Homo sapiens: one gene and its partner. The protein of the gene in region 2 interacts with the protein of the main gene of each other region in a biochemical or structural test. Each region holds a gene or a part of one and is shown on either strand. Other genes may lie near its edges. The genes, in order: LRP1 and NTF4.

Evidence for each region.
Region 1: the proteins of NTF4 (region 2) and LRP1 form a complex in vitro, tested with the Homo sapiens proteins (one study listed by BioGRID).

The regions. Positions count from the first base shown.
Region 1 is NC_000012.12:57,176,882-57,180,681, reverse strand, and holds part of LRP1 (prolow-density lipoprotein receptor-related protein 1 preproprotein), read right to left. Parts: intron 3,642-3,800; coding exon 3,437-3,641; intron 3,256-3,436; coding exon 3,091-3,255; intron 2,324-3,090; coding exon 2,079-2,323; intron 1,793-2,078; coding exon 1,661-1,792; intron 1,354-1,660; coding exon 1,126-1,353; intron 901-1,125; coding exon 726-900; intron 636-725; coding exon 541-635; intron 353-540; coding exon 203-352; intron 16-202; coding exon 1-15. UniProt on the Homo sapiens protein: Endocytic receptor involved in endocytosis and in phagocytosis of apoptotic cells. Required for early embryonic development. Involved in cellular lipid homeostasis.
Region 2 is NC_000019.10:49,061,785-49,066,287, forward strand, and holds the start of NTF4 (neurotrophin-4 preproprotein), read right to left. Parts: upstream 3,035-4,503; 5' UTR 1,955-3,034; exon of another isoform or gene 1,832-1,954; intron 967-1,831; exon of another isoform or gene 873-966; coding exon of another isoform or gene 855-872; intron 226-854; coding exon of another isoform or gene 214-225; coding exon 1-213. UniProt on the Homo sapiens protein: Target-derived survival factor for peripheral sensory sympathetic neurons. May promote ameloblast differentiation and subsequent reduction in proliferation of ameloblasts.

The DNA of each region.
Region 1 (3,800 bases), on a different chromosome or scaffold from region 2:
ACCACAGCTTGTCCCCTGGGGCAGCAGGAGGGGATGAGACCCTTGGGAAGGCCCCACACCCAGCTCTCCTGAAGGGCCCATTGGCCCTAAGTCATCAGGCCCGCCCCACATGGTGAGAGACTGCCCCAAGCCAGCCCCTGTCTCCCAGTAGGTCTGGCCTGGCCTGCTCTGCGTCATCTCTGCTTCGCCCAGCAGCCCTCACCCATGATGGCCAGGGCGGTGGCCTTGCCCAGCTGGCTCCGCATGGCATCGATGACCTCCAGCCCACTCCCATCCAGGTTGCAGCGGTTGATGGTATGGTTCCCGGAGCTGATCCAGTAGAGTTTGCTTTCAGGGAAGTCAATAGCCAGGCCTGGAAAAGGGGGAGTCACTGCCGGGGAGTCTGGCCCAGGGCTGGGGATCCAGGGAAGGGAGCAGATGGTGAGAACAGGCACTAAGCTAGGGCTCTGGGGAGGCTGAGGGGCAACTGAAGGACCCTGCAAGCACCTGCTGGTCAAGGAATTAGGGAGGGGCTGTGGGGGTGGGCAGGGAAGCTCGTACCCACGGGGCCCTTCTGGCCACTGAAGAGCAGGGTGCGATTGCTGCCATCCATGTTGGCCATGCTGATGTTGTCACCATCGGTCCAGTAGAGCTTCCTGGGGGGAGGGTGCCAAGAGGGAAAGGTCAGGGTCCTCTTCTTCCCAGCCCCACACCCCATGCTCCCCGGCCCTGGGCCCTAGACTGACCCACGCAGAGGGTGGACGACAAGGCCATGGGGCTGCTCCAGGCCCTGCACCACTGCGTTCTTGAAGGAGCCATCCAGCCGGGCCACATTGATCTGCTTCTTATTGGTGTCATAGCTTGTCCAGAACAGGTTTCGGGAGACCCAGTCCACAGCCAGCCCGTGGGCATTTGGCAAGTCTGGGGGCACAAGTAGGGAGTCAGTTGTTGGGTGTCTGCAGGGCAGTGGGTCAGGAGGGGAGCCAGTGTGCCTTCTGGAGAAAAGGGATCAGGAAACCAGGCTGGAGCACTGAGGGGGAACAGGACTGGGAGAAGGACCACTCGGACCAAGTAGACCAGGGTTGGGAGCAAGGGGCGGGTGGAGGTGCCCATGTCCACTGGTGGGCATCCAGGGCCAGGAAGAACCTGCAGAGACGACTGTCTCCACGCCTGTGCCGTTGATGAAGGCCCGCTTGATGGCCTGTGTCCGCACGTCAGACCAGTACACACGCTGCTCGCGGGCATCGTAGTCTAGCACTGTGACGTTGTCGATGTCGGGCACCGTGAAGGAGATGATGTAGTTGTAGTAGGGAGCATCCAGGTCCACACCTCGGATCTCCATCTGACGTGCGTACAGCAGGAACTTCTTAAACTCTGTGGGGCATGGGCTGGTCACTGAAGGCAGTCCCTGCCTCTGTGCTTCCCACCAATCCGGTTTCAGGCCCTGCCTTCTTCTGGATCCGTCTGTTTGCTACTGGCCCTTGGCTCCGTGGACATACCCCGCTGGGTGCAGCCCCCCTGGCAGACCTGCAGCCCCTTCTCACAGTGGCTGTCTCTGGAGCCTCTCCTATCGGGACCCTCCCGACTGGGACTCTGCCTTAGCTGACAACCGGGATCCTGGGGCCTGCGGCCTTCCCTCCAGCCTCAGTTGCTCACTGGCTCTGGAGGGAGGGGCTCCTACCATAGCAGGTGGTGTTGTCCTTGTGGAGCTTCATGAGGTGGGGGCAGGCGCAGGACACGGTCCGGTTGTAGTTGATGAGACACAGGTGGGAGCAGGGGCCCTGGCCCCCATTGGCCTCACAGGGATTGGGAGCTGGGGGCAGGGTGGAGAAGAGAAGAAGCCAGAGCATCCTGTGACTTGCTGCTCCCTACATGGACCACCCCTTCCTCGCCCACTCTCCTCCCCCTGTTCCAGCAGCCGCTACTACTAGACCCTTCTCTGCTGCTAGACAGTGCCTCTGTCAACAGCCGGCCTACCCCTGCCATCCCAGCACAGACTTGCTCCTGTTCTCACTGCCCTCTCCTCTCCTAAGAGCTTCTACAGCTTCTAAAGAGGCTGCTGGCTCCCTTCCGGCTGCTCGAGGCCCCGAGCCCCTTACCCATGGGCTGGCGGGAGGGGTGGTACACCTGCAGGTCAAAGGGCTGGGTGTTGGTCCTCTGTACCACGGTGACATTGTGGCCGGTCCACTTGTTGGCCTTAGCCAGTGTGTTTGTTCGCCAGTCAGTCCAGTAGACCTCCCCCCCGTACAGCGTCACTGCAAACGGGTGCGACAGGAACTCGTGTCCCCGAAGCACCTCCATGTGGCCAGAGCCGTCGTAACGGGCTGAGTAAATGGCATCTGACCTAAGAGCATGATGGAGCAGAATGAGGATGCCAGCTGGGATCTCAGCCCTCAGAGCTCTGCCCAGGTGCCCACCCTCTGGGCCCTGGCCACAGCCCTCCCAGCGAAGAGCATGGGACCATTCCCTCCCCTAAGCCTTGCTGGCCAGAGCAGACAGACAGAAGGACCAAGGTGTGAGAACCCAACAGGTCCAGGTTTCACCTCTCAGGCCCCGATTCCCAAGCCCCAAGGGAATCTTTCGGTCACTTCTCCCCAGGGCTGCTGTCAGCACTCAGGGCTTTGATGAAAGTCAGAAAAAGGCACCCTCAGCGTGAACCCCGGGGGGCGGAGCCTGCAGTGAGCCGAGATCGCGCCACTGCACTCCAGCCTGGGCGACGGAGCGAGACTCTGTCTCAAAAAAAAAAAAAAAAAAAGAAAAGAAAAAGGCACCCTCCCTGGGCAGACCAATTAGAAAGAAGTTTCCCCTCCCTCTGGGCAGACACAGCCCCAGCAGAGGGAACAGAGTGGAGAGGACAGGTGAGTGGAGAGGATGGTACAGTGTGAATAACCACAGCTGATGGCCCTGCTTCCGCCTCCTCTACCTGCCCCCTCCCCTCGGCCCTGGCCTCCCCACGCCCCTCCGTCCTCCTCCTCCTGTGCCCAGTCCTTTGCCACCGTTCCTAGTTCTAGATCCCTTGGTCCTTCTCATCACCCTCATCACCACAGGTTCCTCCCCACCCCGTCCTGGTGCCACAGACTTGGGCCTTCTCAGGGCACAGAGGGTGCTGACCTGGCGTCAATCCAAAGGATGCGCTTCTCCAGGTAGTCCACGGTGAGCCCGTTGGGCCAGCCCCCAGAGCCGGTCTCCCGGTGCACGGTGCGGCGCCCAGCCCCACTCATGGAGGCTGCCTCAATGCGGGGCAGGCTGGCATCCCAGTCTGTCCAAAACAGGATCCTGGGGAGTGGGGAGGGGTCAGGAGGGCTAAAGTCAGGGCCCTCAGGGAGCGACTGTGGTGGGATCGTAGGTAGAGGGTGGGAGGAGGCAGATGGCACTGAGGAGTAAGGTGTCCCTGGCCAGGCTGAATGGGACTTCAGGGGGGCCATGGGGCCAGGAGAAGGCTGGGCAAGGTCCTCACCCATCCCGGGGATCCAGTGCGATTGCCCTTGGGTGCTCAATGTCACCGGCCAGCAGGGTGGTCCGGAGGGTCCCATCCAGCTTGGCCACCTCGATCTGATCCAGGTTACTCTCCACCCAGTAGATGTTGCCTGCAATCCAGTCTACAGCCAGGCCCTCGGGTGTGGCCAGGCCATACTGAATCACCACCTCGAAACTAGTCAGGGCTGGAGAAGAGAGGGCAGTGAAAGGTTAGCGTCTCCTGGGGAGCTGTGCATGAATGTGTGAAATCCTGGGAGCCCTCGATGACCCACCCTCAACCCTGGCACTTCTGCCAAAGTTTCTGATGTGCCCATATTCAAGAGTAGGACTCCTATTGTCTCCCC
Region 2 (4,503 bases):
TGCTGACTCCCGAAAGGCCCCAGCCTCCAGCAGGAAGAGCAGAGGGGGCCCAGCAGGGGCACCCCTAGACAGGACTACTCGGGGGGAGAGAAGGTCCCACTCAGGGGCCAGAAAAGGGGGCAATGTTGAGGGTGGGGGTTGGGACTCAATTGGCACACTGGGGAGGAGGAAAAGGAGGAGGATGGGGAGGGAGCATGAGGGGAGAGGGAGCATCTCTCGGAGCACCTGGAGACAGAAAGAGGGAGGCTGGGATTAGAGAAGGGGGTAAAAACTTCAGTGGGGAAAGAAGTTGGGAACCCCAGGGGAGGCTTGCCTGCCAGGATTGTGGGGAAGCCCTTGTTCTAGAAGTTTGGGGGACCCTATATCTAGGGCTTGCGTAATGCGCAACTTGTAGATTAATAATAAATATTCAACTACTACAGGCCAGGCACTGTGCCCCACACCTCTAATCCCAGCACTCTGGGAGGCTGAGGCAGGTGGATGACTTGAGGTCAGGAGTTCCAGAGCAGCCTGGCCAACATGGTGAAACCTCATCTCTACCAAAAATACCAAAATTAACCGGGCATAGTGCTGCACGCCTGTAATCCCAGCTACTCAGTAGGCTGAGGCAGGAGAATCACTTGAACCCAGGAGGCCGAGGTTGCAGTGAGCAGAGAGTGCACCACTCCCCTGCCACCTGGGCGACAAGAGTGAGACTCTGTCTCAAAAGTAAAAATAAGGCCAGGCATGGTGGCTCACACCTGTAATCCCGGCACTTTGGGAGGCCGAGATGGGCGGCTCACCTGAGGTGAGGAGTTCCAGACCAGCTTGGTCAACATGGTGAAACCCCTTCTCTACTAAAAATACAGAATTACCCGGGTGTGGTGGCGCATGTCTGTAATCCCAGTTACTTGGGAGGCTGAGGCAGGGCAATCACTTGAACCCAGGAGGTGGAGGTTGTGGTGGGCTGAGATTGAACCATTGCACTCCAGCCTGGGCAACAAGAGCGAAACTCCGTCTTAAAAAACAATAATAATAATAAAATAAAAATAAAAATAATTCAACTACTATTACTTAACAGTAACAGATGTTGAAATACAGGCTCAGAGAAGTTAATGATTTGTGCCCGGTCACACAGCCAGCAAATGGCAGAGATGGGACTTCACCTCTGGGCAACTGCACTCTGCCGTCCTTCCTGTGCAACTCTGAGGAACCGACAGTCTTGCATCTTGGAGGATGTTCCAAACAATTTTTTTTTTTTGAGACAGAATCTCACTCTGTTGGCCAGGCTGGAGTACAGTGGCACAATCCTGGCTCACTGCAATGTCTGCCTCCTGGGTTCAAGTGATTCTCCTGCCTCAGCCTTCTGAGTAGGTGGGATTACAAGCACCTGCCACTGTGCCCAGCTAATTTTTGTATTTTTAATAGAGATGGGGTTTCACCATGTTGGCCAGACTGGTCTTGAACTCCCAACCTCAAGCAATAGTCGTGTCCTGGCCTCCCAAAGTGCTGGGATTACAAGCATAAGCCACCATGCCTGGTCCCAAACAAAATTTTTTTTTTTTTTTTTTTGAGATGGAATCTCCCTCTGTCGCCCAGGCTGGAGTGCAGTGGCACGATCTTGGCTCACTGCAAGCTCCGCCTCCCAAGTTCATGGCATTCTCCTGCCTCAGCCTCCTGAGTAGCTGGGACTACAGACTCAAGCCACCACGCCTGGCCACATTCCACAATTTAGAGAAAGGTCACAACCTGGAATCCTAGGGAGACCCCAGTTCACCTCAAAACTGCCACTAAGGAGGTAAAACGCTGCCCCTCTGAGGCAGGCTTCAGTTTCCCTGTGTGTGAAATTGACCTGGCGCTGGGAGAGGCTGGTGGAGGCGCGGATTTTGCAGTTTCCCTACAACATTCTGGAAGCCTGTGGTTCTGGGAAAGGGTGGCGTGGAGAAGACTGGGAAACAGTCAGTAGTTACCAGACCTGTCAGCACCTCCTCCGCCTCGGAGCTCTGGGGCTGGGAGTCCCCAGGCTTCGGGGGGCCCCTGTGGAGGACACAGGTGGCCCCCTCCTTCCTGACATCTCAGGAGAGGGAGGGGGCAACCACCTAGGGGAAGAAAAGAATAGACAGGTTATAGAGGCAGGTGGGGAAGGGGCCAAATCCCTGAACAACCCCTTCCCAGAGTTCCTCTTCAAGTGCAGGGTACCCAAGAGTCAAGGCCCCGCCCCCTTTCCAGAGGCCCCTTTTCTACCCAGGTGATGGCTCCTGGCTGGGATGGGAAGCAGATGGAGGGAGGGGAAGGGAGAATAGGGGAAGGGAGAGGCAGTGGATGAAGGAGGCTGGAAGAGATTACATCCCCCTCGGCCCATTCATCTCCCAGATGGGGCGGAACTGGCCTGGACACCCGGGTCCCTGAGGGCCCACACTCAAGAAGCCCTGGTTCCCCAAGCTGCTTCCTGGAATGTTCCCTCCTCACAGGACAGGCCAGGGCCCGCCCAAGACTTCTGCACATACCTGGAGTGGCTGCCTGCCCTGGCTCCTCGGTACAGGAAAGGGGAAGGGTGGAGAGTGAAAGGAGCCCAGGCTGACCCAACCAGGACCGCCTTCTCCCTCAGACCGAGTAGTGCAGACCCCAGGGCCTCCACCTTCAGACCCAGGAGTTCAGATCCCCAGCGCCCTCCTCCCTCAGACCCAGGAGTAGTCCAGGCCCCCAGCGCCCTCCTCTCTCAGACCCAGAAGTCCAGGCCCCCAGCACCCTTCTCCCTCAGACCCAGGAGGAGTCCAGGCCCAGGCCCCCAGCACCCTTCTCCCTCAGACCCTGGAGTCCAGGTCCCCAGCGCCCTCCTCCTTCAGACCCAGGAGTCCATGCCCCCAGCGCCCTTCTCCCTCAGACCCAGGAATCCAGGCCCCCAGTGCCCTCCTCTCTCAGACCCAGGAGTTCTGGAATTCAGGCCCCTCCTTCTCGGATACTAAGAAATGCAGACTCCGGGTTCCTCATCCTCCAGATTTGGGTTGGGGGTTCCGGACTCCGAGACCCCTCAGGGGAAACCGGCTGCATATCTGGGACACTTCCCTCTTGCCTCAGTTTCCTCCGCCAAGCCCCGCCCCGGTCGGCCCCGCCCCCGTCCCTCCCCACCCGAGGGCAGGGCGACCAGGACGCCGGAATCCCGAGGGAGGAGGAGTGGAGATCTTACCTGGGGCGCCCTCTTCGGCTCCCGCGGCTGCCCTCCGCCCGGCAGCAGCTCCTCCTCCTGCTCGCTGGCTGCAGGGACGCTCGCTGGCCCGCCGGGTGCTAGCTGCTCACGCTCCGCAGGGCCCGGGTCGGGGGCGGGGGCGGGGCGGCGCCGGGCGGCAGAGGAGGGGCCGGGGGATCCTGCCTTGCACTCGCGTGCCGGGACCTTGGAAGCCAGGCCTGGCTCGTTCAACGCGGCCGCCTTGGTCACAGGAGTCCCAGTTTCCAGCTGCCTCCTCCTTTGGACCTAGCAGTCCAGGCCCCCAGCCCCTCCTCCCTTCAGACCCAGGAGTCCAGGCATCCGGCCCCTCCTCCCTCAGACCCAGGACTTGCGACCCCAGCCACCTCTCCCCCCAGCCCCAGGCGCCTGAGTACTAAGCCCACAGTTCCCCCCACCACCTCCCAACCCCGCCCCGTCTCAGACTCAGGAGTCCAGCCCCCAGCCTCCTCCTCCATTAGCCCCAGGAGTCTGGGCCTGAGATTCCTTTGCCGTCTTTTGCCAATTGCGTGTCAATCCCGGGGCAGATTCCCACCCTCTGCTCTCCTCCCCACTTCCCAGGAGCTCCACGCCAGACATTAACCAGCTGGGCTTGGGCAGTGATAAGGCCCCAGGCCCGGGGAGACAGTGGATGTGGGGGCTCCCGCATACTCCTCTCCCCTGGAATTTCCTGGCTGGGGACCGGGGAGAAGGTCTTGTCCTGAGCTCAGATAAGAGACGTGCAAGGTATCATAGGACCAGAGATAGACAGATGTGTCTTAAGAACAATCAGCTACCTTGAGAAATGGTGCGCGGTGACATGAAGGGAGAGATAGGGAGAAGACATGGAAAAGTGGGGAGAGACCAAAAGAAAGAGGGGGACCGAGACTAGAGAGAGTGGGGGAGGGCAGGAGCCCAGAGAGAAGACAGAGGCCCAGAGAGCGTGAGGGCAGACCCCCCCACCCCCCCGAGAAGGGGACAGAGCCCCTGAGAGACCCTGAGAAAGACAGGGATGGGACCGGAGCCGGAGTGTCTCAGGACAGTCATGAGGGCAGCGGGGCTCCTCACCCCACCACACCTCTACCCTGAGACTCCGCTCCCCTCCGCCTGCGCTATTTTCAGAAGGAAAACTGACACCTGCCTCGAGGGTCATCCCACACCCCCTCAGCCTAAATATAGCATGGCAAGGTGGCAGGAGGGTGTCCCCGGTTAGGGTGTTTCCTGCTCCTCACCATCCCAGCCAAGGCAACACACAAGGCCGCTCCAGTTATTTATTGGGGGTGGGGGGAAGGGCCACTTCCCAGGCTTTGGGTGTGCATTCA